Regions from separate parts of the Homo sapiens genome. Here region 2 is linked to region 1. A link means that fine-mapping ties the variant in region 1 to the expression of a gene that starts in the linked region. Tissue or cell type: fibroblasts. Region 1 holds a variant in brackets; the other region holds the start of a gene. All regions are shown on one strand. Distances are from middle to middle.

What was found. PIP is the estimated chance that this variant, and not a neighbour inherited with it, causes the effect.
Region 2: RETSAT starts here. The variant in region 1 is fine-mapped to the expression of RETSAT in fibroblasts (GTEx, PIP 0.99).

What each region holds. Positions count from the first base shown.
Region 1 is chr2:85,466,095-85,474,197 of GRCh38, reverse strand. No RefSeq gene overlaps it. Among named protein-coding and RNA genes, the nearest start is that of SH2D6, 51 kb to the right of the region's middle. The variant C/T (reference allele first, on the strand shown) is at 3,213.
Region 2 is chr2:85,350,740-85,358,825 of GRCh38, reverse strand. It overlaps RETSAT (retinol saturase), which reads left to right and starts at 4,298. Exons shown (of 11, transcript NM_017750.4): 1 at 4,298-4,490; 2 at 6,964-7,146; 3 at 7,805-8,046. The coding sequence starts at 4,319. It overlaps ELMOD3 (ELMO domain containing 3), which reads right to left and starts at 4,057. Exons shown (of 14, transcript NM_001135022.2): 1 at 3,997-4,057; 2 at 3,656-3,750; 3 at 3,228-3,271; 4 at 1,574-1,859. The coding sequence starts at 1,627. RefSeq lists enhancers at 3,601-3,660, 3,295-3,794, 3,831-4,230, 3,795-4,296.

The sequences.
Region 1 (8,103 bases):
GGTCTCACATACATTATTTATAAAAGAAGAATTCTCAGCCCTGTGTCCATGGTCGCCAGGGGATCACCAAAAGTCCTGAGAGCTAACAGATGTGTGTGTGTGTGTGTGTGTGTGTGTGTGTGTGTGTGTATAGATGTGCTTTTTTTCTGGAAAGACAACCCAAAGTGTTGCTTAGATTCTCTACGTAGCGTCCACCAAAGATTGAGCACTAGTGATGTAAAAGTCACAGATGATTGATTTGAAGAGGGAGAAAACCCAAACTCATGACTGAACAGTAGTCCACCAGGAGGCTGGATATGCAGGGAGTGATACAGCTTTAGACAAGTAATGAAATCTCTTTGTTCATCTCTAATTTGGGGACGGTAATATTTGTATATCAACCTCAGTGGAAAGATGCATGTGAAAAAATGTTGTACCATCAAAATCTATACCAACATTAGTTACTAAAACTACAGGGAATTCAAGTTCCTGAGACCTTTGCACATGGGCCTCTGCCCACATTGCAGTGAGAGAGAAGGTATGAAGTCTCAGGCTGGTTTCTTGGAGTTCCCCATTCTCTTCACACTCGGGGTGATGGAACCCAGAGACAAGACAAGGTCTGGGCTCATCTCTTGGGCAGGGTAACACCTGCATGTTCACACATCAGTTGCTCTTGTCTTGTCTGGCGGGGGCCCGATTGGCAGCTTGGCTAGACTCCTGCCTAGAAATGGGATGGAATGGGAATAGGCCAGGACTTGTCACTTACTCCCACTAGAGCCCTTTCTCCAAATCTTTATATTCCCTCTTTTACCATAGGTAGCTTGTGAAAGTTACTTCAATACCTTTCCTATGGAAAACAGTAATCTTAGTTTCCCATGCTTCTTCCAGAGGCCTTGGAGTATTGGGCATTTTGTAAGGAAATTTGTACCGAGGCAGGGCTGGGTATGGTGAAGGGGCTGGGATCAGGACCTAGGCTTCCTTGGCCAACTGTTTTAACCAAGTAAGGTAAGAATGATCAATACCAGGTGGCCTATGAAAACTGGAGGCCGCCCCCCACCCCACCAAAGATTTCAGTTGAGGAGAAAGAGCTATAAAGCCATATGAGCTATATTTTAATAAAACATGAGCTTTATAGATAATAAGCTTAGGAAGATTTAGTTGGGTGAATTCCTAATAATACTTCCTCCAAGTTCTACGCCAGCTTTTGTTCTCAAATGCCAGGTGTGAATTTCTCAATGTAATGTCTTTATGAAACATGGCAAGTTTAAACATAACCATTCCACTACTGCTCTCCTCTGAATTCTGTTTTATGTTTTCAGAATGGTTAAAAACAAAGGAAGAATCTTTAAAAAAGTGTTTGTTAATCTCTCAATAACTTTCTACTTAATAGCTAGGAACTCGACCAAGCTATGTGATCTTTATAAAACCTTAGACTACTTGAGAGCTGGTAAGAAGATAAAGTTCAACAGATGTGAGTTTGGATTAGCTGGTGACCTAAAGGTTGGTAAGCTATTTAACATCTCTAAGCCTTTCTGTCCTCACTTGTAAAGGGGAATACGAAATTTATTCAGTAAATACGTTTTGAATGCTTGCCACATACCAGGCCCTGTTGTAGGCACCAGGGATACAAGGATAAACAAGACGAGCTTCCCGCTCTCATGGAACTGATCACAGAACATGAATATTCAACAAGAAATTACATAATTAATTGTAGTTTATGCCAACTGCAATAACAGCACCTACCCCAGCAGACGTTGTGAGGATTAAATGAGTCAATGTGCAGTCAGACACATTCAAAACTGTTGTCATAATACTATTTATAAAATCACATGGGCAATAGAGTCTTGCTAACAGTCCTAAATAGTATAAATGCATGTTGGGTATTAGATCCTCTTTTGTTTTTCACATATATTTAAATGGCAACTTGGTTGTGGGTCCCTTATAACAAATAGGAAGGCATGCTTTCCCTTGATGTTGGAGACACGGTCTTACCAACCTAAGGAAGGATGAAGCTGAACTTGTTTATTGCTGTCAAAAAGAGCAGTTCAGGCTGGGGGTACTGGCTCACACCTGTAATTCCAGCACTCTGGGAGGCTGAGGAGAGTGGATCACATGAGGTCACAAGTTCGAGACCAGCCTGGCCAACATGGTGAAAATACAAAAAATTAGCTAGGCGTGGTGGCAGGCATCTGTAATCCCAGCTACTCCGGAGACTGAGGCAGGAGAATTGCTTGAACCCGGGAGGTGGAGGTTGCAGTGAGCCAAGATCGCGCCACTGCACTCCAGCCTGGGTGGATGACAAGAGCGAAACTCCATCTCAAAAAAAAAAAAAAAAAAAAAGAACAATTTAGCATTGCCATTAACTGGATCAGCAATGCCTAACCCGTAAGTCTTGAGTCCTAGGGGAGTGGGGGGTTAGGGCACAGAGTCTTTGCCAAATGTTCCTAAATCCTTACATGTCCTAAGTATTGTCTGTAGAATGAAAATATCTTTTGCCTACATATGGACATTGTCATAATCTATGTAGCTGCTGATGGGATGAATACAGTATAGCTTCCTTTAAATGAGTCACTGAAGTTTTACTGTGCCCAGCATTTTTTCATTATGTATTTTCTCAGTCAAATCTTATCCTGGGCAGGCTGCAGTGGCTCATACCTGTAATCCCAGTACTGTGGGAGGTAGAAGCAGGAGGATTGCTTGAGACCAGGAGTTTGAGACTAGACTGGGCACTCAGTGAGACCCTATCTTTACAAAACAATATTAATAAAAAATAAACCAGACGTGGGGGCATGCACCTGTGGTCCCAGCTATTCGAGAAGCTGAGGCTGGAGGATCACTTGAGCCCAGGAGGCAGAGGCTGCAGTGAGCTACGATTGCACCACTGCACTTCAGCCTGGGTGACCGAGCAAGACTCTATCAGAAAAAAAAAAAAATTATCCTGCCTTTTCCTGGCTGAAACCCTTTAACAGTTCCTCATTTGTCTCAGGATAAAGTCCAAATTCCCTCCCAGGCACAACAAGACTCTGTTGACCTTTCCTGGCATAGTGCCTGCCCCACCTCCCTCCCACCCCCATCCCACCCCCATCCATCAAGTTCTGACATGAAGCCTCTTCCAGGCCGTGGCATAGAGCCCTGGGGCCCAATTCACATATGCGGGCATCAACAGACCCAGAGCTCCTGAATAGGAGAAATACCCACAGCTCTAGCAGGTGTCATGCCAGCTGAGGTGGCAC[C/T]AGTCCACTGGGGCACCGGATGCGGGTGGGCCTCCCCTCACAGTAACTTCTTCCTCCAGTTGCCGTTGTATCAACCCTGCCTCGCCGCTGCCCCACCACCACTCCACAAGCCAGTTTCTGAATTAAAGCCATTTTCCTTTCAGGGGTTTTAAAAATAAGCAATCCTGGAAGTAATAAAGCTTCTTGATTATCAGTTTTCCATGGACTCGCTTTCTTCAGTGTTATTTGGAAACCCAAGGTCCATAATGCCAGTGCCTTCACAGGCTGTGTATGTGAATTATTTACCCCCTGGAGAAAGTCATAGACAGCTGCAGCGAGGGAGTGATAAAAGTATTTTTTGGCCGGGCACGGTGGCTCACACCTGTGATTCCAGCACTTTGGGAGGCCAAGATGGGCGGATCACCTGAGATCAGGAGTTCGAGACCAGCCTGGCCAACATGGCAAAACCCTGTCTCTACTAACGATACAAAAATTAGCCGGGCATGGTGGCAGGCACCTGTAATCCCAGCTCCTTGGGAGTCTGAGATAGGAGAATCGCTTGAACCCGGGACGTGGAGGTTGCAGTGAGCCAAGATCATGGCCACCGCACTCCAGCCTGGGTGACAAGAGCAAAACTCCATTTCAAAAACAAACAAGCAAACCAAAAAATGCCGGGCACAGTGGCTCACAACTGTAATCCCTGCCCTTTGGGAGTCTGAGGTGGGCAGATCACTTGAAGTCAGGAGTTCAAGACCAGCCTGGCCAACATGGTGAAACCCCGTCTCTACTAAAAATACAAAAATCAGCTGGGCGTGGTGGCAGGAGCCTATAATCCCAGCTACCTGGGAGGCTGAGGCACGAGAATCACTTGAACCCGAGAAGCAGAGGTTGCAGTGAGCTGAGATGACACCACTGCACTCTAGCTTGGGCGACAGAACAAAACACTGTCTCAAAAAAAAAAAAAGTAGTTTATTTTTTACTCTTCTCCTCACCTTAAAACTCTCCAAAAATGAAAAAGAGAAACAACTCCATCTTTTAAAAGATGAGGAAAAAAGAGAGTAATCACTCCAGTTATTAGTTTGAAATATTGTTCCAACAAAAGAATATACTTAACATGTATGTAGTTTCACTAATAACAAAAATGAAAACATGTACCTATTAACCAGCTTTAAGAAAATAGAAGCCGGGCTTGGTGGTGTGCTCCTGTAGTTCCAGCTACTTGGGAGGCTGAGGTGGGAGGATCCCTTAAGTCTGGGAGTTCAAGGCCAGCTTGAGCAACATAGCAACACCCTGTCTCAAAATAAAAGAAAATGGAATTTAACTGGTGACTTTGAAGACTGCTTTGTGCCCCTCCTCAGTCACCTCTTCCTCTCCCTCCTGTGATAACCACCATCCTGAATTTGACTTAATAATAATTCCCTTCTTTTCCTGAGTGTTATTCTTCGTGTATATTTTCCCACACAATATGTTTCAGTTCCAGGGAACTTTTGCATTTTATATAAATGAAATCATTCAGTCAAGTATATAGTCTTCTGTGACTAACTTTTTTCACTTAACTGTGTTTTTAAGACTCAACTGCGGCCGGGTGTGATGGCACGCTGCCTGTAATCCCAGCACTTTGAGAGGCCGAGGCAGGCAGATCACTTGACATCAGGAGTTCAAGACCAGCCTGGCCAATGTGGTGAAATTCCATCTCTACCAAAAATACAAAAATTAGCCGGGCATGGTGGCGTGCACTTGTTATCGCAGCTACTCGGGAGGCTGATGCAGGAGAATCGATTGTTACAGTGAGCCGAGATTGCGTCACTGCACTCCAGCCTGGAGGACAGAGTGAGACTCTGCCCCCCCCACACACACACATACACACACACCCAACTACTACCATGTGCAGTGATAGTTTCACTCATTTTCACTGAAGAATTGTGTTCGATGATATGAGTATGTGACGTATTTACTCATCCTCCTGGTGACAGTCATTTGCATGTTTTCAGCTTTTTGCTATTACAGACAGTGCTGAACATTCCTGTACCTGTCTTTAGCTTCAAAGGCTAGGTGGCGGCACAATTCCAAACTGCCACGTATAGATAAGGGCACTGCTCTGGAAGGCCCAACTTAACGATCCATTGTTTAGAACCACAAAAGGCAAGCAGCTGGAATGACTCCAGAGAAGTCAGCTCCACCCTGCAGGCTGCAGGGAGTGGGAGAGGTGGAACTAACAGAGAAGTTATGTGTAGATCCATGTTAACCATCTATGTCTCAGCCTCCCAGCTGAGAAAACTGCTGCTGGAGAGGGAGCCAGAGGAGAGGGCCTGAGGGAACAGCAATCATTAGAAAGTCTATCTTAGAGTCTGTTGCTACACTGCCCTCCTACATCCTGAAAAGAAGGGATATGGCCCAAGACAGAGGAGAAAACACATTTGGTGATAGGTTGTTTGAAAAAAAAAGTCAGCTGAAAACTGTGGTCTGTTCCAGGTCACTTGCCTCATCTTTCTCTAGATTAATTTTTAACCAATAACTGGTCTCTTTCAAAGATGAGCAATGATCAGAAAGACCTTTGTATAATTAATGCAACTTCCAGTTAAACGAGGTGGTATTTTTATCCTCCCCCACCCAAAACCCTACTGAAAGGCCAGTGAAGGAATAGAAAGGGCCTATCCTCACCGTCACCCACGTGAGTCAGGAAACATCAGTAGCTGAGAGAAGCAACTAAGGTAGCAAAGCGCAGGAAGATATGGTTTGACACGTCTGCAGACTCCATGAAGGCACCAGAGACTGTGTGTAAGGTGGGGGTGGAAACAGCTGAATATTGAATTGCTAGATCATAGGCCCCTTCCTCCCCTCCTTAAAGCCAGGGTGACCACCAGCCTGAGCAGGAAACTGGGGATTCGGGCCTCGAAGGAACTAAATCCGAAAGGCTCTTGACTTGGGGACACAGACCTTAAGGGGGCCAGTAAATTATGTGGAATTAGAAACACAGGGATTAAGAGGAGGTCTGGCTGGGCACGGTGGCTCAAGCCTGTAATTCCAGCACTTTGGGAGGCCTAGGTGTGCAGATCACTTGAGGTCAGGAGTTCGAGACCAGCCTGACCAACAGTACAACCCCATCTCTACTAAAAATACAAAAATTAGCTGGGCGTGGTGCCACATGCCGGTGGTCCCAGCTACTTGGGAGGCTGAGGCAGGAGAATGGCTTGAGCCTGGGAGGCAGAGGTTGCGGTGAACCAAGGTCGCACCACTGCACTCCAGTCTGGGCAACAGAGTGAGACTCTGTCTCAAAAAAATTAAAATGAAAATGAAAATTGTGCAGCAGTTTGACTCCAATGATAAATTACTGTAAACAACAGAAATGTCCATGAATAGGGGATCGGATTAAACAAAATGTGATATATTGTGCCAATGGAATGCTACTTAAATAATGTGAGAGTAGTATATTTGATGACATAAAAACATGCATGGCATGTATGACATGAAGAAAGCAGATTACAAAATAGCATGTCAGACCAGGCACTCTGACTCACGCCTGTAATCCCAGCACTTTGGGAAGCTGAGGCAGGTGAATCGCTTGAGGTCAGGAGGTAGAGACCAGCCTGGCCAACATGGCAAAACCCCATCTCTACTAAAAATACAAGAATTAGCTGGGTGTGGTGGTGTGTGCCTGCAATCCCAGCTGCTCAGAAGACTGAGACATGAGAATTGCTTGAACCTGGGAGGCGCAGATTGCAGTGAGCCGAGATGGTGCCACTGCACTCCAGGCTGGGCAACAGAGTGAGACTCTGTCTCAAAAAAAAAAAAAAAATAGCATGTATATGGTAATCTCATTTTGTGAGGAAAAAATATGTATGTATCTGTCTGGAAGGCTAAATACCAAATGTTAACCATGGCAGGGAAAAAAGTAAATTTGTTCCCTGAATGGTGAAACTTCCATTCACTTTGCCCCTTCCTTCACTTTGCTCCTAGATCATAAGTGGTCCCCACCTGCTATAGTTTAAATGTGTCCCCCAAAGTTCATGTACTGGGATCTTGATTCCCAATGCAACAGTGTTGAGAGGTGGGATTTTTAAGAAGTGAGTAGGTCATGAGGGCTCTGTTCTCATGAATAAATTAATGCTATTATCTCAGGAATATGCTACTTATAAAAGGACAAGTTAGGTTCCCTTCCTGACGACTCTCTCTTGCTCTCTCTTGCCCTTCCACCTTCTGCCATGGGATGATGCCATAAGAAGACTCTCATCAAATTCTTAGCAGATGCCAGCACCATGCTCTTGGACTAGAACCAGGAGCCAATAACTTCTTGCTTTGTATAAATTACCCAGTCTTAGGTATTCTTTTATAGCAGCACAAAATGGACTAAGACACATAAGCAAAAAGCAAATGAAAAACATACATCAGAATAAGGATTACTTTGTGGAAAAGAGAATCCAGTAAATACTTTATGATTTCAAAGAATGTATAGATGATGAAAGATGAAAATGATAGAAGTACAGTGATATGATTTGGATCTGTGTCTCCAACAAATCCCATGTCAAATTGTAATTCCCAGTGTTGGAGGTAGGGCCTGGAGGGAGGTGATTGGATTATAGGGGCAAAATTCTCATGAATGGTTTGGAACCATTCCCTCAGAGCTCTTCTTGTGATAGTCAGTGAGTGAGTTATCATGAGATCTGGTTGTTTAAAAGTTTGTGGCACCTTTCCCCTTCTCTCTCTTCCTCTTGCTCCCACCATGTAAAATGTAAAATGCCTGCTTCCCCTTCGCCTTCCACCATGACTGAAAGCTCCCTGAGACCTCCCCAGAAGGCAAGCAGAAGCTGCCATGCTTCTTGTACAGCCTGCAGAACCAGGAGCCAGTTAAACCTCTTTTCTTTATAAATTACCCAGTCTCAGGTATTTCTTTACAGCAATGTGAGAACAGACT
Region 2 (8,086 bases), 120 kb after region 1:
CAAGGGTGGAAGGTGGTTTCTTCACAATACATATATCGTTCTGTACTTTTTGCATTTTGAACCATGTGAATGTATTATGCCAAGGCCCTGGAATCCCAGATCATCCTGTTACTCTAATCCTTCTGCTTTTTTTTTTTGCCTTTCCAACTAATGCTCATTAAACACAACTTTCATTTCTTCATGTTCCAGATGCAAGGATGGAGGCCAAAACACCTCACAGCTGACCAAGCTCCCTGGTAAAGGAGCTCATGATGGCTAAGCATTTATTTCCCACTGTAATGCAATCAACACACCTGCTGCAGATCCCTCTCCTCACTTCCATCCCTTTGTTCATGTAGTTTTCCTCCAGAATACACCTCCACTCTCTTCTCTGATCAAGGTCAGTTCCACCTACTCAAGGCAACCTACCTTACTAGCTGGGGCTACAATGCTGTCTCACACCTCTAAGTCCAGTAACCCTTGTATGCAGCAAAAGTTCCTCTGCAAAAGGCCTGCATAAGGACCTTCTCTTATATTTCTTTTTTCATTTTTTTTTTTTTTTTTTTTGGAGACAGAGTCTCACTTGGTCACCCAGGCTGGAGTGCAATGGTGTGATCCCAGCTCACTGCAACCTCCGCCTCCTGGGTTCAAGCGATTCTCTTGCCTCAGCTTCCTGAGTAGCTGGGATTACAGGCATGCACCACCATGCCCAGATAATTTTGTATTTTTAGTAAAGACAGGGTTTCATCATGTTAGCCAGGCTGGTCTCCAACTCCCGACCTCAAGTGATCTGCCCACCTCAGCCTCCCAAAGTGTTGGGATTACAGGCGTGAGCCACTGCCTCCAGGCTCTTATATTTCTTTTATATGTTTCACAACCATTGGCACAGTACTAAGCACAAAATATATTTCTCAAATTTTTGTTGAAATTTTATCTCTAAAATATTTGGTGATTCATTGTGCTGAACAACTTCCTGCAGGCATCTGTGTACCTGAGATTCATTTCATCCTTCCTTTCCTTCTCCAATTCAGTCCCCTCCAGTGTCCAAAGACTTCCCTCTTTGGAACAGTTCGCATATTACTACAGTGAAGAAAATCTTTCTGGAGACCCAAAGCAAAGGCTTTGTCCCAGTCTGGCCACTGAATCCCACAGCCTCCATTTAAGACCATTTTTGGGTGGGCAAAGTAGTGTGAAAGGTAAGGCATGTAGGGTTAGCTGCCCGGCTCATACAAAGACATATCACATTGAACTGAGTCCTGAGGATGATCAGGCCAAAGCAAGCGTTTCACAGGGAAGAGGCTAGTAAGGTAATGATCCAAATCAATGAAATACAGATTTCTTGGGTGATTCCTCAATGAAATTCTCCCCACTACCCAAGCAAAAAGAAAACAAAAATCTCATAACTCACTTACAAAACAAGCTATTAGGAAAAGCAATTGACCCTGAGGTGAATAGAAGCTCCTTCTTACAGAACAAAGAGAACTATAATGAGGGTTTCTAAATTTTTCCAAATATTCTCTTAATATATTCTTACTATACTTAATGATATATCTCAAACCAACACCACCTTTCCCAAATAAGAGTGCATGCTTACCTGTCCATCTCTTAATTCTTCTTTACTATGGAAAGAGCAAGATTTTTCATTCATGACTCAAAATCATTTGTTCATGTGAGCTTTGTCCTTGGGCCCAGAAAGCATTTTAGTAAGGTCTGAGATCAGAAGCTATGTGGAGAGCCAGAGATCCAGTTGCTCTACCTTTGCCTTCCTTGGCAGTCACTCAGACTAAGAGTAAGAAAACAGTCCCTTTGTGCCATCCGAGGGTGTAGGAGGTTTCTGTGAGTGCTGAGAGAAGTCCTCTGAGGTCTTCGAAGCCTCAGCTCTGCACAAAAGAAAAAAAAGAAATTGAAAAAGAAAACTGGTTTCACCATTCAGTTATGCCTCTGTTGACAATTTTTTTTTTTTTTTGAGTTGGAGTCTTGCCCTGTTGCCCAGGCTGGAGTGCAGCCGTGCGATCTCGGCTCACTGCAACCTCCGCCTCCCGGGTTCAAGCGATTCTCCTGTCCCAGTCTCCCGAGTAGCTGGAATTACAGGCGTGCGCCACCACACCCTGCTAATTTTTGTATTTTTAGTAGAGATGGGGTTTCACTATGTTGGTTAGGCTGGTCTTGAACTCCTGACCTCGTGATCCGCCTGCCTCGGCCTTCCAAAGTGCTGGGATTACAGGCATGAGCCAACACGCTCGGCCTGTTGACAAAATTTAAGCAGCTGTGAATTTATTCTGAATGAACAACTTGCCTCAGCCAAATGCTTACCTCTTACTACCCAAGCCACAGGATGGCCAAAAGGGGACCACACAGGGGACTGTGAGCTGGATTCTGTGTCCAAAAGGCAGCAGCACCACTAGAAGGGATGGGGTCTGTTTCTGACAATGGAGTTACTGGGACCTGGGCCAGCTTATCAAAGGCGTGAGGCTAAAGGTGTCACCTTGGTGGGTGGTCTTAGCTGAAGTGCTCAGGCTTTGTTTAGGCCTCACACACAGGCTGGGTCAGGGGCTTATAATACTAGACCTGGTTCCAACAATGGTAGAAATTCAAAATGCAACACGATGTTCTAACCTTTCTCAGTTATCAGCAATACTGTGCATGTGGCAGCTGGCTAGCCAGTTTGGGCAATTCTAAGTCTTTCATCTGACATTGCTTCCCTCAGGAAAAGGGCTGGACAAGGCTCATACCTCATCACAGGGGAATTGGACATCCGGAATGTCTGTCACATCAAAAATTGCATCCTAAGTGGGCAGATGGCCCACACACAACTGACAATCATAGTTCACAACTTTGGGTGACTAAGGAAGGAGGGTAGCCTCTCTATGAGGTCAGCCCTCCAGGATGCCATAAAAACTGGCTGCTGGTGTCAGGATGCTTTGATTATTAACACTGAGAGGAAGAATACCTCCTGGCTCTTGGGCTTGACATGTGGCTCACTGTAATCCGGGGGACAGGGCAATGCCCCCTTAGTCCTGGCACCCCAGGAACTAAACTGCTCTCACTGTGGCCTCTGGGGCCTCAACATCTGCCTCCCCTTTCCTTTTCCTCCATCATGGCCTCCATGACAGCCTATGACAAAACACACATTGGCCAGCCTTGGCAAGGTGACAGGCGGGTATGGTAATAGCAATCTCAGGAGGGCTCTTCTGTTGCTGTGTAGAAAATGAACCAAGTAGCATAGAATCGTGACCAGCTTTCCACACCTGGCTGGAGCACTCCTGGGGCCTTCAGTAGGGACAGTTACTATCTGTAGCAGAGAAGAAAAGAGCAACAATTCCATTAAACAAGGAAGTACTCAAAGGCAAATTCCTGATAGTTGGACCTAAGGAAACGGCCTTCCTGTAAAAATGGATCCTTCTCCAATCAAGTATTCATTATGCACCCTCTTTAGGCAAGGAGGGGGTATGATTCTTCAACTGCTTGCTGGAGGTTAGATTCTCTGCATAGGAATTTAAATTAGATGGGCCCTTAGCTGATCCTTTCACCATGCTTGTCCATGGGCGGCTCCCCGTCCCCCAGGTTCCCCACGGATGGGGTGTCATTAGGGACCCGCCATAGAGGACTCCGTCCCAGGCGGGCCCCCAGGACAAAACTATGGGCCACTTTGAGGGGCACAGAGACAGACGCTCACCGGTTGTGATGCGCAGGTAACAGAGAGCTCAATTCATCATGACAACCAGTCAGACAGGGGCTGTGAGCAGCCTTTGGACAGAACTTTCGCATAGCCTGGAGGCGTAAGACGAGGAAAGCAATTTAACACCTCAAGGCAGCGAGTCCAGGGCAGAGCCAGGACCAGAACTCAGGACTCCTGTCTCCCAGTCGGGATTCTCTTTCAGTCTTACAACTCTCGGCCTTGTCTCGCCCCATAGTGATAATTTCCACCGGATCACATTCTCCCTCCCTCCTCAGGCCGGCTGCTAGCTCCGCACAGGCACCAACCACTCCCCTTGGCAAGTGTTAACGCGTTCTCACCGTTAAAAGAGCTTTCCAAACTTGGGGGTCCCGCCGCCTCGGCTAGGCCTCATCTGCTCATGCGCACAGCCGCTTCCGTGCCGGCTCCCCTGGCCCCGAGAACTACATTTCCCAGTAGGCAATGGAAACCCAAAAGAAGTACGGAGAGCCGGGAGGGTCAATCATCACCTGAGAGTTGGCTCTTCGCTGGCTGGCTGGTTAATCAGTGCTCAAAGCTGCCTCCGCCTCCTGACTGGAGAGCGAACTAGCCCGGGCGGAGCCACAGTCCTAGAGGCTGAGCGCAGTCGGAGCTGTCCCATTTACCCGACCCGACGCCGGCGTGATGTGGCTTCCGCTGGTGCTGCTCCTGGCTGTGCTGCTGCTGGCCGTCCTCTGCAAAGTTTACTTGGGACTATTCTCTGGCAGCTCCCCGAATCCTTTCTCCGAAGATGTCAAACGGCCCCCAGCGCCCCTGGTAACTGACAAGGAGGCCAGGAAGAAGGTTCTCAAACAAGGTAGCAGGAGGGACCCTGGGGTCCGGGGCTGCACTCGAGGCTTTCTCACAGATTTGGGTTCTCATTTTGCCAAGGCAGCCGCTACCAGACGTGGGCCTTAGTTTCCCCATATGTAAAGTACTAGGAGGGCTTCCTTGCACGTGGAGGAGCCCCGCTTTAGTGTGCAACACTGTCGATAGCCTTTGCCCTAGTAGGCCCCGGGAATAGTAGTCCCAAGGGTGTGGTCATTGTCCTTGGTTTGCAAGGTGTTGGCACCCGCCCTGCCACTTGTAATCCCCGTGGCTCGTGGAACTGATAATCCCCGTGACTCATTCCTCCACTTGGTTCCAGGACCTTAACTTTTTCACCTACCCTCCCATGCGAGCTCAGGGGTGTGGGGGAGCAGCACAGAAATGCGTAGGAAATTGCGTTTTGCCCGTCCGGTGATTTAACAGGCTTTGCATGGTCCCAAATCGTAAGGATTGAACCCTAGTTCTGAAACATTGGCAGAGGTTCAACAAGGCGCCTCAGGCTCAGAGCCTGCTCTCCACTCTCATCTTTAAAACATATTTTGTGGTTGCTTCTAGAGTTTAAAGAGTTCTGCTGCTTTAAAAAATAATGGATCACCTGTTTGATCTACGGAGTCCCTCTCACTTGTAAATTTTAGAATTCTCCGTGTCATATCTTGCTACACAATCGGAGACAGTACTGTTCTAAGTGGAAGGACTAATCATCTGGACTTCTGAGAACTGAGTTTTAGCTTGGACTCTGTCACTAATTTGCTGCATAACCATTAGCACCTACCTGGGCTGGTCTAAAAATGAGATGACTAGCTTAACTGCTTTTCAAACCGGATTGTGATCTATTAGTGGGCTATGAAATCAATTTAGTGAGTTGCAACTGGCATTATTTATTTATTTATTGAAACAGAGTCTCGCTCTATTGTCCATGCTAGAGTGCAGTGGCGCGATCTCCGCTCACCGCAACTTCCGCCTCCTGGGTTCAAGTGATTATCCTGCCTCAGCCTCCCGAGTAGTGGGCATGCCCAGCTAATTTTTGTATTTTTAGTAGAGACAGGGTTTCACCATGTTGTCAAGGCTCTCGAACTCCTGGCCTCAAGCGATCCGCCCACCTCGGCCTCCCAAAGTGTTGGGATTACAGGCGTGAGCCATCACGCCTGGCCACAACTAGTATTTTAGAATGCAGTAGAATAGAAAATATCAGAGTGCATTATACATAGTTCCACTAAGTATTGCATTGTGACACTTGTTTCATGTATTTATCTTATATACTTACATGTGAAATTTTTTTTTACTATTGATCTCTCTAAAAACATTAAAAAAATAAGCAGTTTGCCAAGTTCTCTTGTATCTTGAAACATCCCAGATCTCAGTTCTTTGCCAGTGATTGTTAAAGAACAGATCTTGTGTCGGAAGTACCCATATAGCACCACTTGCTATCCAGTTTTGTCTTCTGAGAAGGTGCTGCCTCCCTCAGCACTGCCCCCAGACCTTCCCTATGGGAGGGGCTGGTGCTGTGATTTCTCAGAGCTGCAGCCTCTGAGCAGTTCTGTCCTGCCCAAGCCTTTTCATCAGGACCTGGAAGAGCCACCATAAGACCCAGCTATTCCACTATTGCTTGCAGACCCTGCATCTTCCAAAGAAACCCGGCTTGTGGGCTGGTGTGTTGGCTCATGCCTGTAATCCCAGCAATTTGGGAGGCCGAGGTGGGTGGATCACTTGAGGCCAGGAGTTCAAGATCAGCCTGGGCAACATAGCAAGACTTTGGCTCTATAAAACATAAAATAGGCGGGGCGCGGTGGCTCATGCATGTAATCCCAGCACTTTGGGAGGCCGAGGCAGGCGGATCACGAGGTCAGGAGATCGAGACCATCCTGGCTAACATGGTGAAACCCCATCTCTACTAAAAAATATTAAAAAAAAAAATTAGCCGGGCGTGGTGGTGGGCACCTGTAGTCCCAGCTACTCGGGAGGCTGAAGCAGGAGAATGATGTGAACCCAGGAGGCGGAGCTTGCAGTAAGCGGAGATTGCGCCACTGCACTCCAGCCTGGGTGACAGAGTGAGACTCCGTCTTAAAAAATAATTAAACACATAAAAATAAAAATAAAAATAAAATGGCCCGGCATGGTGGCATGCACCTGTAGTCCCAGCTACTCGGGAACCAGAGGCAGGAGGATTGCTTGAGGCCAGGAGTTCAAGGCTGCAGTGAGCTGTGATCACATCACTGCACTTCATCCTGGGCCATAGTGAGACCTTGTCTCAAAAAACAAATAAGCAAAACCCCAAATCTGCCTGGCTGGTTCTGAGTATTCCCAGGTAAAATGTTTGAAACATGTTAGTCAAGAGTTCTGTGCCAAACCACTCTAGAGGTTTCTTGCACTGTACAAGCTAGAGAAGTCTTCTTTGGTTTCCCTATCTTTGCTATTTCCCTGCCCCTGCCTGAGAAACCCACCCTTTGGCCCTTCTGCTGTAGCTTTTTCAGCCAACCAAGTGCCGGAGAAGCTGGATGTGGTGGTAATTGGCAGTGGCTTTGGGGGCCTGGCTGCAGCTGCAATTCTAGCTAAAGCTGGCAAGCGAGTCCTGGTGCTGGAACAACATACCAAGGCAGGGGGCTGCTGTCATACCTTTGGAAAGAATGGCCTTGAATTTGACACAGGTAAGGCTTGTGTGGAAAAGGGTTGGGAGCATGGCTGTATGTTGAAGAGGCTTGGAGCAGCCCTTGTGGGGTGATACTGAGCATTTCTGTTGTTTTGGAAGTGCCATCTTCTCTCTGGGTACTTTTTTTCTTTGTTTGTTTCAGACAGAGTCTCACTTCATCACCCAGGCTGGAGCGCAGTGGTGTGATCCCAGCTTACTGTAACCTCTGCCTCCTGAGTTCGTGATTCTCATGCCTCAGTCTCCCGAGTGGCTGGGATTACACTCAGTAATCCCACCAAGTGGGCCACCACACCCCGCTAATTTTTTTGTATTTTAGTAGAGATGGGGTTTCTCCATGTTGTCCAGGCTGGTCTCGAACTCCTGACCTCAAGTGATCCACCTCCCTCTGCCTCCCAAAGTGTTGGGATTATGGGTGTGAGCCACCGTGCCCAGCCTCTGGGCAGTTTTCTTATGTGACAGCATAGCTACTGGGAGTTGAATCGGGCAGCGATCTGGCGGTTTCTGCTGTGACACCTCCCTACAGACAGAGTGAGCAGCTCACTCTGGGCGTGAACTTGGCCAGGCCAGATAAACTCTTCCACCTCACTTCCTCAGCCACCTTTCCAGGGCTCAATCCCCATATCCCTTTACTACCTTGTTTTTCCATCTCCCAACAGGAATCCATTACATTGGGCGTATGGAAGAGGGCAGCATTGGCCGTTTTATCTTGGACCAGATCACTGAAGGGCAGCTGGACTGGGCTCCCCTGTCCTCTCCTTTTGACATCATGGTACTGGAAGGGCCCAATGGCCGAAAGGAGTACCCCATGTACAGTGGAGAGAAAGCCTACATTCAGGGCCTCAAGGAGAAGTTTCCACAGGAGGAAGCTATCATTGACAAGTATATAAAGCTGGTTAAGGTAACATGGACATGCTGAGGACCCAGAGTTTGTTCTCGAT